2 separate regions of the Homo sapiens genome follow, and region 2 is linked to region 1. Evidence: fine-mapped expression QTL. A gene starts in region 1. The other region holds a variant in brackets. All regions are shown on one strand. Distances are from middle to middle.

Region 1 (8,331 bases):
GACATGTACTCTTTATAACAGAACCAGAAGTTAAAAGATGTAGACATCACACAAATCAATGATTATTTTAAAAATAGAAAACAATGATAAAAATTCAGTTGCCAACTTAGAGGATTTTATACATTATGAAGTGTTCTATTTTCCTTCCAGGGTCTGAAATTTATTTCTCAAGAAAACAGATTTTATTTCTAAGCCTTTACTATCTTTGCTAGAAACAGAAAAACCAGTTTTCTCTTTGACAAAATTGTCCCAGGAGAACAACACAAATGCTTTTTCCAAATTAGAGCATAAGTCTTCCTTAAATGTCCTAGTGTGACAATAAGGATACAACAGCCATCTTTTAAATGTCATGAAGGCTATTGTTAAGACGGTGTTTTTGGCCGTTTTGCAGATGGTCCATCGAAGTTAGTTCTGTTATCAATGTTATTTTCATCTTCTGCATCATCTTCATCATCACCTTTTAAAATAAATATTTGTTGTATGACAATACGTTCTATGGCTGAAAGAAATATATATAGCTAAAGTGGTTGATAATGAGACCATTTCACTTTAGGGATTAATAAAACCTGCACATTTTAGATTAAAATGATTTTGAGAATTTCAGTGTTTAAAATCTTTATTTTCTATCACTTTCCTCTTTGGAAATATTAGTTCATTCACCATAAAATCCACTCTTTTTTTCTTTTTTTTTGAGATAGTCTTGCTCTGTCGCCAGGCTGGAGTGCAGTGGCACGATCTCAGCTTACTGCAACCTCCGCCTCCGGGGTTCAAGCGATTCCTCTGTCTCAGCCTCCCAAGTAGCTGGGATTACAGGCACGCGCTACCACGCCCGGCTAATTTTTTGCATTTTAGTAGAGATGGGGTTTCACCATGTTGGCCAAGATGGTCTTGTTCTCCTGACCTCGTGATCCGCCCGCCTCGGCCTCCCAAAGTGCTGGGATTACAGGTATGAACCATTGTGGCTGGCCAAAATCCACTCTTTTAAAAAGTGTACGGCCTAGTGGTTTTTAGTATATTCACTAGCTTGTGCAACCATCACCTAGAACACTTTCATCACTCCAAAGAGAAATGATATGCCCATTAGCAGTCGCTTTCCATTCCCCTCAGCCTTCGGCAACCACTAATCTACTTTTTTTCCCCCTTATTAGAGATAGGGTCTTGCTATGTTGCCCAGCTAGACTCAAACTCCCAGGTTCAAGTGATCCTCCTGTCTCAGCCTCTAGAGTAGCTGGGACTACAGGTGCCCACCACTGCACCTGGCTCACTAATCTACTCTATCTCTATGGATTTGCCTATTCTGTACATTCATATAAACAAAATCATGCAACATGTACCCTTTTGTGTCTGGCTCTCACTTAGCATAATGTTTTCAAGGTTCATTCATGTTGTAGCACATGTTAATACTTCATTACTTTTTATTGCTAATAATAGTCCATTGTATGGATATACCACATTTTGTTAATGCACTCATCGGTTGATGGATATTTGCATTATTTCTATTTTTTAAAATTATCATTTTTAGAGATGAAGAGATGAGGCCTCACTCTGTCCTCCAGGCTGGAGTGCAGTGGAGCAATCAGCCCACTGCAGCTTCAAACTCTTGGGTTCACATGATCCTCCCACCTCCTAAAGGCGCAACACCAAGCCCAGCCAATTGTTGTTTCCACGTTTTAGCTACTATAAATGCTGCTGTTATCAACATTCATGCGTAAGTTTTTGTGTGAACATACGTTTCCAGTTTTCTTGGGAGGACTACCAGTGGAACTGCTGGGTCATATGGTAACTTCATGTCAACTTTTTGAGGAGCTACCAAACTCTTTTTCCCAGTGGTTACACTGTTTTACATTTCCACCAACAATGTACAAGGTCTCCAATTTCTTCACATTCCAGCCAACACTTGTTATTGTTCTTTTTGATTATAGCCAACATCCATATTATCAAGATGTATTTCCCAAGATGGAAGGAAAGTACAGTTTAAGCTCTTCTTACATAATTGTAAATCCTGACTCTAATATCTAGTTCTTGGGTTTTTCAGCTCAGGACGGTTAAAATGTACCTGCCTGGCCAGGTGTGGTGGCTCACGCCTGTAATCCCAGCACTCTGGGAGGCTGAGGCGGGTGGATCACGAGGTCAGGAGTTCGGGACCAGCCTGGCCAACACAGTGAAACCCTGTCTCTACTAAAAATACAAAATTAGCTGGGAGTGGGGGCGGGTGCCTGTAATCCCAGTTACTCCGGAGGCTGAGACAGGAGAATCGCTTGAACCGGGGAGGGAGAGGTTGCAGTGAGCCAAGGTTGTGCCACTGCACTCAAGCCTGAGTGACAGAGCTAGACTCCATCTCAAAAAAAAAAAAAAGTACCTGCCTATTTCTGCATTCGAGGCAATTTTTTAAAAATAATGCAGTTAAACTTCATGTTTCTACTTTCAAACTGCACCTACAAAACTGGAAAGGCAAGGGAGTCTCTGGGAGTTAATACGTGATAAAATGAAGTCTGTCCCAGTCTTTGGAACCTGTTCCTACTCTGCGATAGATTGTACTCTTCCAAGTATGTCTGTAGTTTCACACCTGATAAAACTCCTTTTTATTCAACACCCAGCTCAAAAGTCTTATCCTTTCTGAAGACTTCCTAGGGTGTCTGGGTTTGCAACAGTTACAGAGGACCACAGAACCACTTTCACTTTTTTTTTCTTTTTTTTTGAGACGGAGTCTCGCTCTGTCGCCCACGATAGAGTGCAGTGGCGCGATCTCGGCTCACTGCACCCTCTGCCTCCAGGGTTCAAGCGATTCTTCTGCCTCAGCCTCCCGAGTAGAGTAGCTGGGACTACAGGAGCATGCCACCACGCCCAGCTAATTTTTGTATTTTTAGTAGAGACAGGGTTTCACCATATTGGCCAGGCTTGTCTCGAACTCCTGACCTCGTGATCTGCCTGCCTCGGTCTCCCAAAGTGCAGGGATTACAGGCGTGAGCCACCAGCCCGGACCACTTCCACTTTTAATAAGAGTGTCTGCCTGTCTAGTCCCCTTGTGTTTCACAAGGGCAGGAACTGAGTCGCATTCACCTCATTCTTCCTCCAGGGCTCAGCTCAGGGTTTGGCACATAATAGTAGGCATTCGACACGTTTTTTTGTGAAATAAACGAAATAGCGATGAGTTGTGGAAACGCTTGAGTAGAAGCAGCCCAAATAAATATAGTGATAAATGCCAACAATTTTTATTTTTTAAATTATTTTAAAAATAATAATAGAAACGGGGTCTCGATATGTTGCCCTGGCTGTTCTGGAACTCCTGACCTCAAGTGATCCTCCTGCCTCGCCCTCCCAAAGTGCTGGGATTACAGGCGTGAGCCCCACTTCGCCTAGCCCGCCAAAAATTTTTAGATGCAATTCTTCTTTCCTCGAGGCTCACTTTGTCCAAGTCTGCCACTCTACACGGGCTCCCCAAGCCAATTTCCCCTGGGCGCCCGCCCCGTCCTCCGGTCACTGCAGCACCGTCTCAGAGCTCACCGTCCAAGTCCTCGTCTGGAGCCGCCGCCACCCGGTGCTGCACTTCCCCCTGTACCAGAGGGTCGAATAATTCCGTTACCATGTCCTTCATCTGGGCCACGCCAGACAACAGGCCCTGGAAAGGGTCGCCGTCACCCGGCGCCTCACAGGACACCCGCAGCTTCTGCGGCTTCCCTTCCTGCCCGACGTACTCTCCCAGCAGCTCCATGGTGACCGCTAAGCTTCCAGAACACGACACCGGGAAGCGCCACCCGGAGGCGGAAATCAGCCCGCGTCCGGCGCAGGCGGGAGAAGGGAGAGGAGTGACATCCGTTTGTCGGAAGTCGCTCCTCCCCCTTCCTTCGCTTTTTTTCCTTGTCATTGGTTCCTGGCACTCGGGCCCCACCTCCTCCGGCTACGCCCCTCACGGCCGCTTTTCCCGCCTCCGCCGGGGCCGAGCCGCTGTTCGGCTGACAGTTGAGGATGGCCGGAGCCGAGGGCGCCGCTGGGCGGCAGTCGGAGCTGGAGCCCGTGGTATCGTTGGTCGACGTCCTTGAGGAGGACGAGGAGCTGGAGAATGAGGCGTGCGCTGTCCTGGGCGGCAGCGACTCCGAGAAGTGCTCCTACTCTCAGGTGGGCGCGCGGCCCGGGCCTCCTCTCCCCCGGCTCCCGCCGAACCTCCCCTTCCCGGCCCGGCTGTCCCTATTCCCGCCTTGCCGCAGTCGTCTCCCCAGTGGTGGTCCGGGGCCGCCGTTAGTCTGCCGCTTCCTCACCCCAAGCTCACCCTTCCCTTTTAACCCCAACCTCCTGGGCCCCCTTCAGCCTGTGTCCAGCAGGGGCCCCCCTCTCCCCTGTCTCCAACTCTGTCCGGCCCGCCAGGAAGGGCCCTGGAGCAGCTGCTCTGTCCGTCCTCTCCAGCCTCTTCTTGGTGCACCACTGCTTTTCACGAAACCACCCCGCGACCTCTCAGATCCAGACATCTTTGTCCCTGATTTTCCCATCCTAAGATTATTTATTTATTTATTTATTAGGGACCGAATGGGAGAGTCAGGTTAAAGAGATTTTCAAATCCATAGGGATTTGCGGTGAGCTCCTTGACAGCTAGTTCCTCTGCAATTTAGTTGGACAAGTGCTAGCTAGTACTTTTTCTTTCTTTCTTTTTTTGGCAAAATGAAGCAAGTACCCATGTCTATCTGCAGTCTGCCCCCCTCCCCTGGAAATAGACCGGAAACAGAACAGCAAGTGGCTCTGGCAAGGGAGGGGAGAGAGGAGAAAAGGATCTGTTTGGCATTTGGAAGACGTTGTGAGTGAGCAAGTGTTTGAGGGGGTGTGATGTGGTGTTTAGTGACTCACCCTACACTTCGAGGTACAAAAATGGAAAAGGATGGGTAGGAAGAAGACTGACAAAGGATGAGAATTGGTAGGAAGAAGGGTTACCTAGGAAGAGGGGTGGATTGGAACACTGGGGAGATGAGGGGAGAGACTTGTATTCATTATGTGGTATGAACTGAGATCATAATACCAGTTCTCGTTGTTGACCAAGGTTAGTTTACACTGCAAAGTGCTAGATTGTTGAATAAACCTGGTATCCAGACATAGCCCCAGGTATTTTAAAACCTTTGGTCACCACTAAAACAATTTTTCCCCTGCTTTACTTAAAAAAAAAAAAAAGAAAAAAGTTATGTCTATATGTAAACTATTTTTGAAGTGTAGTTACCTTTATAAAATGGATTCCTTAATATTTTCTTTGTGGTAAAAAAAAAAATACGGAAATTTGCACAAATCATGTACACAGCTTGAAAGGAAAGTGTGCGTGTTCCCACAACCCAGATCAACAAATAGAACATTAGGAGTGCAAAAGGCTTATTGGAATAGAACTTTAAAAAAAAAAGAAAGAAAAAGAAATAGAACCTTACTGGCATCCCGGAAGCCTCCTTATCTATCTTCCTCCTTCCTAGAGGAAGGTAACTATACCTCTTATACATATTCACTTTTTTTTTCTTTTTGAGATGGAATTTCACTCTTGCCACCCAGGCTGGAGTGCAATGTCATGATCTCTGCTCACTGCAACCTCCACCTCCTGGGTTCAAGTGATTCTCCTGTCTTAGCCTCCCAAGTAGCTGGGATAACAGGCGCCCGCCATCACGTCCAGCTAATTTTTGTATTTTTAGTGGATGGGGTGTTCTAGAGATGAGGTTTTCACCACGTTGACCAGGTTGGTCTTGAACTCCTGACCTCAAGTGATCTGCCCACCTCGGCCTCCCAAAGTGCTGGGATTACAGGCGTGAGCCACCGTGCCCAGCCTACATATTCACTTTTTAACATTTTGTCACATTTGTTTTATCTCCTTTTCTACTTAAAATTTGCTGTTTTAAAATTTTGAACTATTTAAAAATAAGTTGCAGACACGATGACACTATACCTCTAAATACTTCAGCAGGCATCTCCTAAAAATCAAAGGGATTCTTTGCATGTGTTGATTCTTTCTTTGGTAGATTTACAAACATTTTCCAGGATGAAAGTGTGATGTTACTTACATAAACCTGTACATATGCTCCTGTGTTTTCACATATTAAAATGATTAAACAGATCCATTTATTCACAGCTGATTGACAAATTCAGACTTCCTATCACTTTAAGAAAGAAGTGCTGGCTTGTGTCGTGGCTAATGCTTGTAATCCCAGCACTTTGGAAGGCCAAGGCAGAGAATTGCTTGAGCCCAGGAGTTTGAGACCAGCCTGGGCAACATAGCAAGACCTTATCTCTGCAAAAAATAAATAAGGAAGAAAGAAAAAAGTGCTTGCATGAAAAAAAGCACTAGTATAAAAATGAAACTTGCAACGCAACTGTGTTTTGGTTGATGCTCTGTTGTGTAAACTTTTTAGTCTTAATGGTTTTTACAGAAAGATCTTGACCACAGATAATCTGATTTTAATTATTTTTCAGTTCCTAGTGTGGGTATTAGGTAAACCATGCTACTACATTAATTCTCTTTTCCATTTTGGGGGCTTTCAGGGCTCAGTAAAGAGACAAGCACTATATGCCTGTAGTACCTGCACCCCAGAGGGAGAAGAACCAGCAGGAATTTGTTTAGCTTGCAGTTATGAATGTCATGGAAGTCACAAACTATTTGAGCTATACACAAAAAGGTAAACATAGTCAAGAGATTGTTACTAAATGCTTTTGAAGTATAGATTCTTTCCCATCTACACTTTTTCCTAATCTTGTTTTTTCATGCAAAGCAGTTGAACACTAATGAAATTAATTAATTAATTTATTTATTTATTTATTTTGAGACGGAGTCTTGCTCTGTCACCCAGGCTGGAGTGCAGTGGTGTGATCTAGGCTCACTGCAAGCTCCGTCTCCCGGGTTCACGCCATTCTCCTGCCTCAGCCTCCCGAATAGCTGGGATTAAAGGCTCCCACCACCACGCCCAGCTAATTTTTTGTATTTTTAGTAGAGACGGTGTTTCACCGAGTTAGCCAGGATGGTCTCGATCTCCTGACCTCGTGATCCGCCCGCCTCAGCCTCCCAAAGTGCTGGGATTACAGGCGTGAGCCACCTCGCCCAGCACTAATGAAATTTAATGTAATTATTTTATATAATTGGAGAGAGTTGTTTCTAGAGCCTTTAAAAACATAATATGGTACAAACTCAAACCATTTATCTTTCCCTGCCATCATTTTACTTGTGTGTTTGTATGTGATATAAATATTTGCTTTTGTACATATTAATTTCCCGAATTGTGAAGTCTTACTATGTGCTTGAATGCTTGAAGAAATTTTAAATTGGATTTTGTAAAAAGAAAAATAAAATTGTTATTTCCTCCTTTTTTCAGAAATTTTCGTTGTGATTGTGGAAACAGCAAGTTTAAAAATTTGGAATGCAAATTACTTCCTGTAAGTAAGCACTGTAACTATAAATGCATTTAGAGCAGCTGAGGTTAATATTTGCCAGAGTGGGTAAAAAAACAAATACCTGTATTTTCCAAAAAAAGAAGTTCTTATGCTTATTCTTTGCAGATGGCCATTTCATTTTTTACTTTGTTAGAAAAACTATATAAACTGTTGAGAGCCTACAAGATAGATGGTAATTAATATGAAAGGTTTGGGGGAGAGATGTACTTGAAAGTAATTCAGGTTTAATTATATTGGTTGTACTTATTCTCTGAGGCTTTTAAATCAGCGGATATGACTTAAAAACAATAAATAGGGTCAAGAGATCGAGACCATCCTGGCCAACATGGTGAAACCCTGTCTCTACTAAAAATACAAAAATTAGCTGGGCATGGTGGCACCCAGTCATCTACTCGGTCAGCTACTTGGGAGGCTGAGGCAGGAGAATTGCTTGAACCCAGGAGGCGGAGGTTGCAGTGAGCCGAGATTGCGCCACTGCACTCCAGCTGGCAACAGAGCAAGACTCCATCTCAAAACAAACAAACAAAAACAATAAATAGGCCGGGCACGGTGGCTCACACCTGTAATCCTAGCACTTTGGGAGGCCGAGGCAGGTGGATCACTTGAGGTCAGGAGTTCAAAACCAGCTTGGCCATCATGGTGAAACCCCCCCGTACTAAAAATACAAAAAATTATCTGGGCATGGTGGTGCGTGCCTGTAATCCCAGCTACTTGGGAGGCTGAGGCAGGAGAATCGCTTGAACCCAGGAGGCGGAGGTTGCAGTTACCCGAGATTGTGCCACCGCACTCCAGCCTGGGCGACAGAGCGAGACTCCATCTCAAAAAAAAAAGAAAAAGAAAAACCAATAAATAAGGCTGGGCGTGGTGGCTCATACCTGTAATCCCAACACTTTGGGAGGCCTAGGTGGGAGAATGGCTTGAACCCAGACC
Region 2 (8,331 bases), 22 kb after region 1:
ATCATCACACCTCTGTACTCCAGCCTGGGTGACAGAGCGAGACCCTGTCTCTAAAAAGCAATAATAATTAATAAACTTAGAAACTACACATTTTCTGAAATAAATTAAAAAACTGATTTGTTATTGAACCCAAGTATTTATTCACTAGCGTTTCTACTCTGCACGTTAGCTGTGACCATTTGAGGATATCCAGAAACCAAAAGCTGCACAGTCTCATTTGTGTGTTGTTAGGTCTCCTCCTACAGTATCCTTGCTAGAGATATTTCCTTTTACTTACGGGCTTTCTGTGGCTAATGTTTGTAATCCAGGGTAGGGACAGATCCTTCATTTTGCAACTTGCAAGTATCCTATTTATTAGCATTTTGTTAAGTGTAAATTCCCGTGCCATTTAGCCAAGTACATTAGAATTTTGAGCTGCAGTCATTTCAGGATGTGTTCAGCCTCTGCATCCTGAATCTGTTAGGGGTTTGGATTCCTCACTGGTTGAGCAGCAGTATTACTGTTGGTGCTTATGAAACTGGTGTATCAGCTACTGGTCTGAGAAAATTATTCCAAGTTAGCATTATTCCAAGTTGCTCTTTTGAGTATGGTAGCCACACTTACTAGGGAATGAGAGGGAAGTTTTCACTTTATACCCCTCTTTCTTACTTTCTCTTTATCTCTTTCCCTTTTTGCTCGAATTCATTCACGTGCTCTATTTTTCTTTCTCTTTCCTTCACTTTCCTTGTCTCACTGTCCTTCTTTCTTAACAATAAGCATGTGTTACCTCAGTAAAAAATAAACATGCTGGGTGTCATGGCTCACACCTGTAATCCCAGCATTCTGGGAGGAAGCGGGAGGATCACTTGAGCTCAGAAGTTTGAGACCAGCATGGATAATATAGTGAGACCTCGTATCTACACAAAATTTAAAAATTAGCCAGGCGTAGGCTGGGCACGGTGGCTCACGCCTGTAATCCCAGCACTTTGGGAGGCCGAGGCAGGCGGATCATGAGGTCAGGAGATCGAGACCATCCTGGCTAACACGGTGAAACCCCGTCTCTACTAAAAATACAAAAAAAAATTAGCCGGGCTTGGTGGCGGGCGCCTGTAGTCCCAGCTACTCGGGAGGCTGAGGCAGGAGAATGGTGTTAACCCGGGAGGCAGAGCTTGCAGTGAGCCGAGATCGTGCCACTGCACTCCAGCCTGGGTGACAGAGCGACACTCCATCTCAAAAAAAAAAAAAAAAAAAAATAGAAAATGGAGATGTTATCATTAACATAATTCTTAACAGTATCATTTGACTTGTTTGTGAATGCTATGACCTCGGATTGCGATTCTGTTACTTAGTTCTCTTTCATAATCTTTGCTTTTCAAAAACAGGTTGTTAAGAGAGAGGACATTCAGCAGTTCTTTGAAGAGTTTCAGTCAAAAAAGAGAAGAAGAGTGGATGGGATGCAGTATTACTGCAGCTAGAGTGGAGTATGAAGCTTTCTCATTCAAGCCAATGAAAATGCGCTTCCCATTCTTGGAATAAAAGAGGTGTGGTTCACATTTGGCCCCCTTTCCGTCCTCCTCTGTTTGGAGAGGCCTCGCGCTCCCTTCATTCTCTTTAGCTGCAGTAGCCACCGTGTGGATGCTGACTTCACAGCCAGCGTCCTCTGTGACTCAGCTGATGCAGCTCATTCCACAGACTTCTCCAGTGTACTCCTACTCCAGTGCACCCAGGGTTATTTGCATAGTTTTTAAGTTTGATTTTGTTTTGAGAAAGCAAATTGGTGTCTTGTTTAATGATCTGTTATTTCACTCCCAGATGTGTGTGTTTTGCCACAGAGCTGTTGCCTTCCAGAACCTCCTCCGCAGGCATCACGGAAGGCTCTCTTCCCGTCACCTAGAACCTCTACAGGTCCCCTCGCCCCTATGATCGTGGTGCCTTGGGTCAAAGCTTCCTCAAGCCTGGTCTGCTCCTTCTTTCACGTCCCTGTTTTCTGAGGTTTGGTCATAGCTTAGAAAGGATCTTGGGGCTTGTTTTCTCTAGGCCCAACCTCCAGAGTAGCCAGGACTGATGGTTTTCTGGTCTGGATGTCTGTCACAGGCGGAGAGATTAACAGATGACAGGGTTGAGGAAGCAAGCCTTTGTTATGAATTTTACTAATACAGTTCAAGTGAAATTTTCGTTCATGATTCTATTGGCACTAGAATTAGAATTTCAGTACTGTAGTGCTCACAGGGCTTCCTGGAGAACATTTGCCCGTATACTAGTCCCTTCTCTGCTGCCTAGAAAACAGACCGGGTCTCACCCCTGTGAAATCTTGGTGGTTTACGAAGTCCTCTGGATTTCTTGATATTATCAGGGATATTCATAAGCATATATCAAAAATGGACCTATTTTGATATTCTGTTATGAAAATGTTATTAGAACCCCAATAAATTATTATTTTTCCCCCTTGAATCTGCTAAAGAAAACAGATCCTGACTTAGCTTACTTGAAATAAGCAGGGCAGGGAGCCCTGTTTTGGAAGAGACAGACTGTGGAAGAGATTACAAACAAGGCCCGAGGCTGCACGAATGATGAGTTTTGTGTATATAATGTTAATGTCCACCGCCACTTCCCTAACGACTATGAGATCTTTTTTTTGAAGATCCTCATGGAAGGTTGTACAGAGCCCCACATTTGAGGGGAAGTCCTTTCAGTTGATATGAGATCTCTTTAACACCCCTCAGTCTATGTAGGAAATGCCTTGTGATACATAGAGAACCCTCAGCTTCTCTCTGCCTCTGGAGGACCAAGGTCTTTCCTGACAGTCGGAGACACACCTTGATGTATGTTAATAAAAGCATTTCAGGCTGTGGGGCCACCATGTATATTAATACTCCTTATGTGTCCAGCATCTGTGTATTCATTCGAGTGCCCAATCCCTGGATGAGATGAACTAGGCCTTATAAAAAGTCAAAGCCTCAAAGAAATGGCACAACCATGTTCTTCGGCACTCAGGCTCCTAATTGCAGATCCTCACGAAGGGTGGTATGTGGAGCTGGAAGGTCTTGTGGCCACAGGACATGCTGGTGAGCCCTGAGCTGGCCTTGTGCAGAGGGCTCCGTTCAAAGGCTCGGGGTGTCTTTGAGGTTGTTTATCAAGCTGGGGAACTCTTCCAAGTCTGACAATGTTTCGAACCCTTTTTGCAAGGTTGCACTATTAGTATACCATCATGTCCGGAAAACTTTTAATCTTCTCAAATATCTGATGTAACTACCAGAAAGTCCCTTACTTCCTATGACCAATCAGGACCAAGTCTTGGAGGTGATGTGTTACATTACGTGCAGCACAATAGTACCGATCAGTTAACTCAGCGCTGAAGGGCTTGTTTTATGAAAGGTACTATTCCTTCTTTCACATTAACTGGAAACCTCTTTTTTTACCTGTTGTTCACAACTAGTTTTCTTATTGACTGTATTGGACTGTCTCTTCTTGTAGAGACTGATTTTGGCCAACATATTAATGCATGTTTTATGCAAAACACAAATATGATATTAGTTGCTTTTAAGGAGTTCTGGCATTGTATGTGCATTTTTGTAGAAATTGTTACTGGACTTATAATTACATACTTAACTCTGATCAGGTTTCTGTAAAATTTAAATAAAACCAATACAAAATAGTTGCTTTTCAGATTGTTTTTAGTATATTTAAGTCTACACAGCCTCCCTCTGCAGGTTTTAAGAAAATGCAGGCAGGGCGCGGTGGCTCACGCCTGTAATCCCAGCACTTTGAGAGGCCGAGGCAGGCAGATCACGAGGTCAGGAGATCGAGACCATCCTGGCTAACATGGTGAAACCCCATCTCTAATAAAAATACAAAGAATTAGCTGGGTGTGGTGGCGGGCGACTGTAGTCCCAGCTACTCGGGAGGCTGAGGCAGGAGAATGGCGTGAACCCGGGAGGCAGAGCTTGCAGTGAGCCGAGATCACGCCACTGCCCTCCAGCCTGGGCGACAGAGCGAGACTGTCTCAAAAAAAAAAAAAAAAGAAAAAATGCATAGAGCCGGGCATGGAGGTTCACGCCTGTAGTCCCAGCTACTTGGGAGGCTGATGCAGGAGGATTGCTTGAGCCCAGGAGTTGGAGGCTATAGAGTGCCGTGGTTGCACCTGTGAATAGCCAGCCACTCACTGCACTCCAGCCTGGGCAACAGAGTGAGACCTCATCCTTCAAAAGAAACGTAATGGTGTATTCTAACAGCTCTTCCTGCCCTGAGGTCCTGCCCTCAAAGCAGAGGGACTGGTTCACGACATTGGGTAGCTCATTATTCTGCTGTTCTGTAAAATGCAGCCTGATCCCAGGTCCCCCGAGCAGAGCTCCTTCATCCCCCCGACTTCACCATACCCCCTGGGGTCTAATAATTGGGGTCTAGATGAAC[A/G]GCAGAACAAAGCAATGGGCTGGGCTGTGACCAGTCACAGTGTTCAGGTACTGCTGCATGCAGAGGGAGAGAGGGCTGGAGCCCACATCCTGAGGAAAATGTGAGGTCCACCCTACACAGTAGCCATTATTTCTAAGTAAATATAAAAGCAACCCAAAAAGCCAGTATAGTGGCCCATCTTTGGCCTCCCCACAACTCCTGCTACCTTGGATGTGGACTTACGGTCATCACCCATGGTAAGTTCAGAGGCCAGATTGCAGAGGGCAGGGTGTGGGCTGCAAGAAGAGGCCACAGTTGGCACTACTGTGAGGGGACAAGGAGAGGGCGCGGCTGCAGAAGGCCAGTCCAGGGAGTTGCTTGTTGAAGTTCAGAGACACTTGGGCCAACGCACATTCTTAAGGTGGAGCCATTGCTGAGAGTGGACCGCAGGTGATGTTGGAGCTGTTAGAAGATGGGATAGGATGGGACAGAAGGACCACCAGACCTGGTGGTGGGGGATGCGGGTGAGGGTGTTGGAATGAGGCCTCAAAATCGAGGGAGTTCCATAGGCAGCCTCCATTTCCCTGGGAGGTGGGAGGGGAGGAGTGAGCTGGAGCATGGCTCAGGTAAGAGGAGGTGGGGGGAAGGAGTGCGCTGGAGGGCGGCTCAGGTGAGAGGAGGGGGCGGAAAGTGGCCCCGAGGAGAACACGTTAAGGCTGACCCGCAGGACTCAGGCACACCGAGCCACGGGAGGCTGGGGACCACAGGTACCACGGGGGCGTGGCTGTCTTCAGTCTCCCAAAGCTGAAGATGGACACACTGTTTATGGGTTGAGTTGGGCGGGGAGGATGGGTCGCAGCTGGGCATGGTGAGACGGCTGCCACCTATGGAAGCTGGGCCATCCTGGCAGGGGAGCAAGGAGGCCAGAGTTCCAGAGGAGGACCAGGGAGAGGCTCTGGACAGGAGGCGATCCGGCCTGAGAGCGGGCAGTGAGGTTAGCATTTCAAAGATGGAGATATTCTGGGGACAGGGGAGAGCTGTGCCATGGACAGGTAGCTGGAGACGGTCTAGGCAGCTACCAGGATGACACCAGGGATTGGAGGGAGAGGATGTTAGGTTGGAGCCAAAGCCTTCAGGATACGAAAGGAGTGACTGGGGGTGGCAGCTGCAAAGGTGGGAGCGGGACACTGGGCCGTGGGGGCTGGAGAGGTGCTGGGGTGTTAGAGACGTCACCCGCCGCCCTTCCTGACACAGAGTCCGTGGAAAGAGCGAGAAGGAGCCCACGTCCTGGGAGAGGGCTAAGTGGGCGAGGAGGAGCTAGGAGGGCAGCCAGGACAGGAGGCAGGAGGGGAGGGGTAGGAGCACAAGGACGCTGGCACTGGGGGGCAGGGAGGACACCCTGAGCAGGCTGGAGAAACAACCGTGGGTGCGATCAGGGGACTTCTGTAGGAAGAAGGCTGGCGAATGACTCGGGAGAGCGGGATTGGCAGGCACAGGGTCACCTGACTGCAACTCTGCAAAGAGCCCAGTCCCATCAGCCCCGGGAATGGTGGGATGCTGGGGGCACTGAGTTCTCTCGGGATCACTTACAGCTGGACTTCCCAGGGACTCCCCAGGGATTTCAGTGGCTCCGTTGGAACATGGAGAGATGGGAAGAACAATTGCTTTTAGTTCAGTCTCAGAGGGCAGGGAGGCATTTATGGTGCATCTGCTAGAACAGGGGGCCCACGGTACCGTCCATGGCCCGTTAGGATCGGCGCCACACAGCAGTAGGTGCGCGGCGAGAGTTATCGCCTGAGCTCCGCCTCCTGCTAGATCCGCGGCAGAATTAGATTCTCACAGGAGAACTCTATTGAGAACTGCGCATGCGAGGGATCTAGGTTGCGTGCTCCTTATGAGAATCCAATGCTAAAAGTAATGCGCTTGAATCATCCCGAAACCACCCCCCCGACCCCTGTCCGTGGAAAAATTGTCTTTCATGAAACCGGTCCCTGGTGCCAAAAGGGTTGGCAACGGCTGTACCAGAAGATTCCAGAGATGGAGGATATTTGTGGAGCTAGCTAAATGAAGGGTAAGGAATTCCAGGAGAGTACAGGCGTCAACAGGTGCCCACAGGACCCCGCAGCAGCCCTCCAAGGTGGGTATTGAGGAGGAGTTTCTTCACCTGAGCCTGAGGATGAGAACTATTGCACACGGTGACTTGAGGATCGCGAGTCAGACATGGAAATTTCGCGACCAGCGCTCAAGAAGCGCACTCGCATCATCTCCAGCTTAAGGATGAGGAGACTCAGTTAGGCGCTTTGCCCCAGCTTCCACAGCCAGGAAGTGGCAGAGGCAGGCCCAGCCCTGGCCCTGCCCTGGCCCTGCCCTGCAGGCGCCCCGAGGATCCCCCAGTCCGTGCCTTCCTCCCTCCTCCCAGGCAGGCTTTCCTGGCTCCGCCTCCTCACCCTCTCTGAAGACCCCCCGACAGGCCAGCAGCGGGCACAGGAACACTCCCCAAAGCTTGGAGACAAGGCATGACAGCCCAGAATCCAAGGCTCTGCTAGATGAGGCTCAAAGCAGCGGCGAGCTCTCCGAGGGACACAGCTTAGTCCCAGGCCGGGGGAAAGGCACCGGGCTGGCACTGGGAGGAAATGGACGTGGTTGTACGGAACTGGTGAGCTCTGGGTTTCAGAGACAGAATAAAAAAGGGTCCATGGCCAAGAGGCTTGGAGACAGAACAGATGGACCTGTTGGGTGGGCCATGGAGCTAAACTCCAGACTGGGGTGACGCCCGTGAGAAACCCCAAGACCGTGAGTGCCATGTATAAAGCCAGCTGTGGAGCAAGGACAGTTAGCTGACCACAGGGAGCGTGGAAACACATGACTGGCTTCCACACTTTCTGTGAGAGGACAGCCTTGAACACGCAGAGCAAAAGCAGGCGAGCACGGGCGGAAGGAGCCGGGAGGCCCTGAGGACGTGGCCTGGAAACTATTCACAGCACACCGCAGGCAATCTATGCAGGACGACCGACGACCGAGAGAGAGACACGGGCCCCAACGCCAGAAACGACCATATATCTCAATTCATTTGCTTTTGTACTTTTAGGTGGGGGATGGTAGATTCTGGAAACTATGGACTGGTGACCTGACAGGTGTCCCCTAGAGGCTTCTAAAACAAACTAGCAGCTACTGTGGAATGATTTCTGAACCCCAGGAGAGAGGAGCTGAAAATAGGAAGTGAGGAGTCCTTAAGAACAAATGGTGCGACCCAAATGCCCATCAACAGTAGACTGGATAGAGAAAATGTGGCACATGTACACCATGGAATACTATGCAGCCATAAAAAGGATGAGTTCATGTTCGTTGCAGGGACATGGATGAAGCTGGAAACCATCATTCTCAGCAAACTTACACAGGAACAGAAAACCAAACACCGCATGTTCTCACTTATAAGTGGGAGGTGAACAATGAGAACACATGGACACAGGAAGGGGAACATCACACACCGGGGCCTGTCAGAGGGTCGGGGGTTAGGGGAAGGACAGCATTAGGAGAAATACCTAATGTAGGTGACGGGTTGATGGGTGCAGCAAACCACCATGGCACGTGTATACCTATGTAACAAACCTATACGTTCTGCACATGTAACCCAGAACTTAAAGTATAAAAAAAAAAAAAAAGAACAAATGATGCAGAGCCGACTTCCTTCTCCTGTTGATAAGTCAACCAGCTTCCCAGGGGACGAGGGAAGCCTATGTATGTGACAAGGTCTCTCATGACTGGCCCACAAGATGACAGTAATGATGACCCCATCCAGCTTCCAGGGACAGCTCGGTCGGGTCTCCTCACTCCTCAAACGCCTTCAGTTTCCCTCCTCTCCACCACTAAGCTACTCAAAAAGGCTGTCTACACAGATCATCTCCACCTTCTCACCTCCCACTCAGACTCGCATCTGCCCCACCTGGCTTCTCTCTCCAGCTG

Which allele goes with the higher level. Positions count from the first base shown, and alleles are read on the strand shown. Sizes are in standard deviations (SD) of each study's normalised expression.
In carriers of allele G in region 2, the expression in CD8 T cells of the gene that starts at base 3,931 in region 1 tends to be higher than with A alone (large effect, 1.0 SD a copy in CEDAR).

What was found.
Region 2: its variant is fine-mapped to the expression of UBR7 in CD8 T cells (CEDAR, PIP 0.95).

Annotation. Positions count from the first base shown.
Region 1 is chr14:93,203,326-93,211,656 of GRCh38, forward strand. It overlaps UBR7 (ubiquitin protein ligase E3 component n-recognin 7), which reads left to right and starts at 3,931. Exons shown (of 11, transcript NM_175748.4): 1 at 3,931-4,116; 2 at 6,499-6,632; 3 at 7,323-7,383. The coding sequence starts at 3,967. It overlaps GON7 (GON7 subunit of KEOPS complex), which reads right to left and starts at 3,740. Exons shown (of 2, transcript NM_032490.5): 1 at 3,505-3,740; 2 at 1-457. The coding sequence starts at 3,712. The coding sequence ends at 363. RefSeq lists an enhancer at 2,977-3,836.
Region 2 is chr14:93,225,582-93,233,912 of GRCh38, forward strand. It overlaps UBR7 (ubiquitin protein ligase E3 component n-recognin 7), which reads left to right. Exons shown (of 11, transcript NM_175748.4): 11 at 1,362-3,634. The coding sequence ends at 1,454. Among named protein-coding and RNA genes, the nearest start is that of UBR7, 22 kb to the left of the region's middle. The variant A/G (reference allele first, on the strand shown) is at 4,390.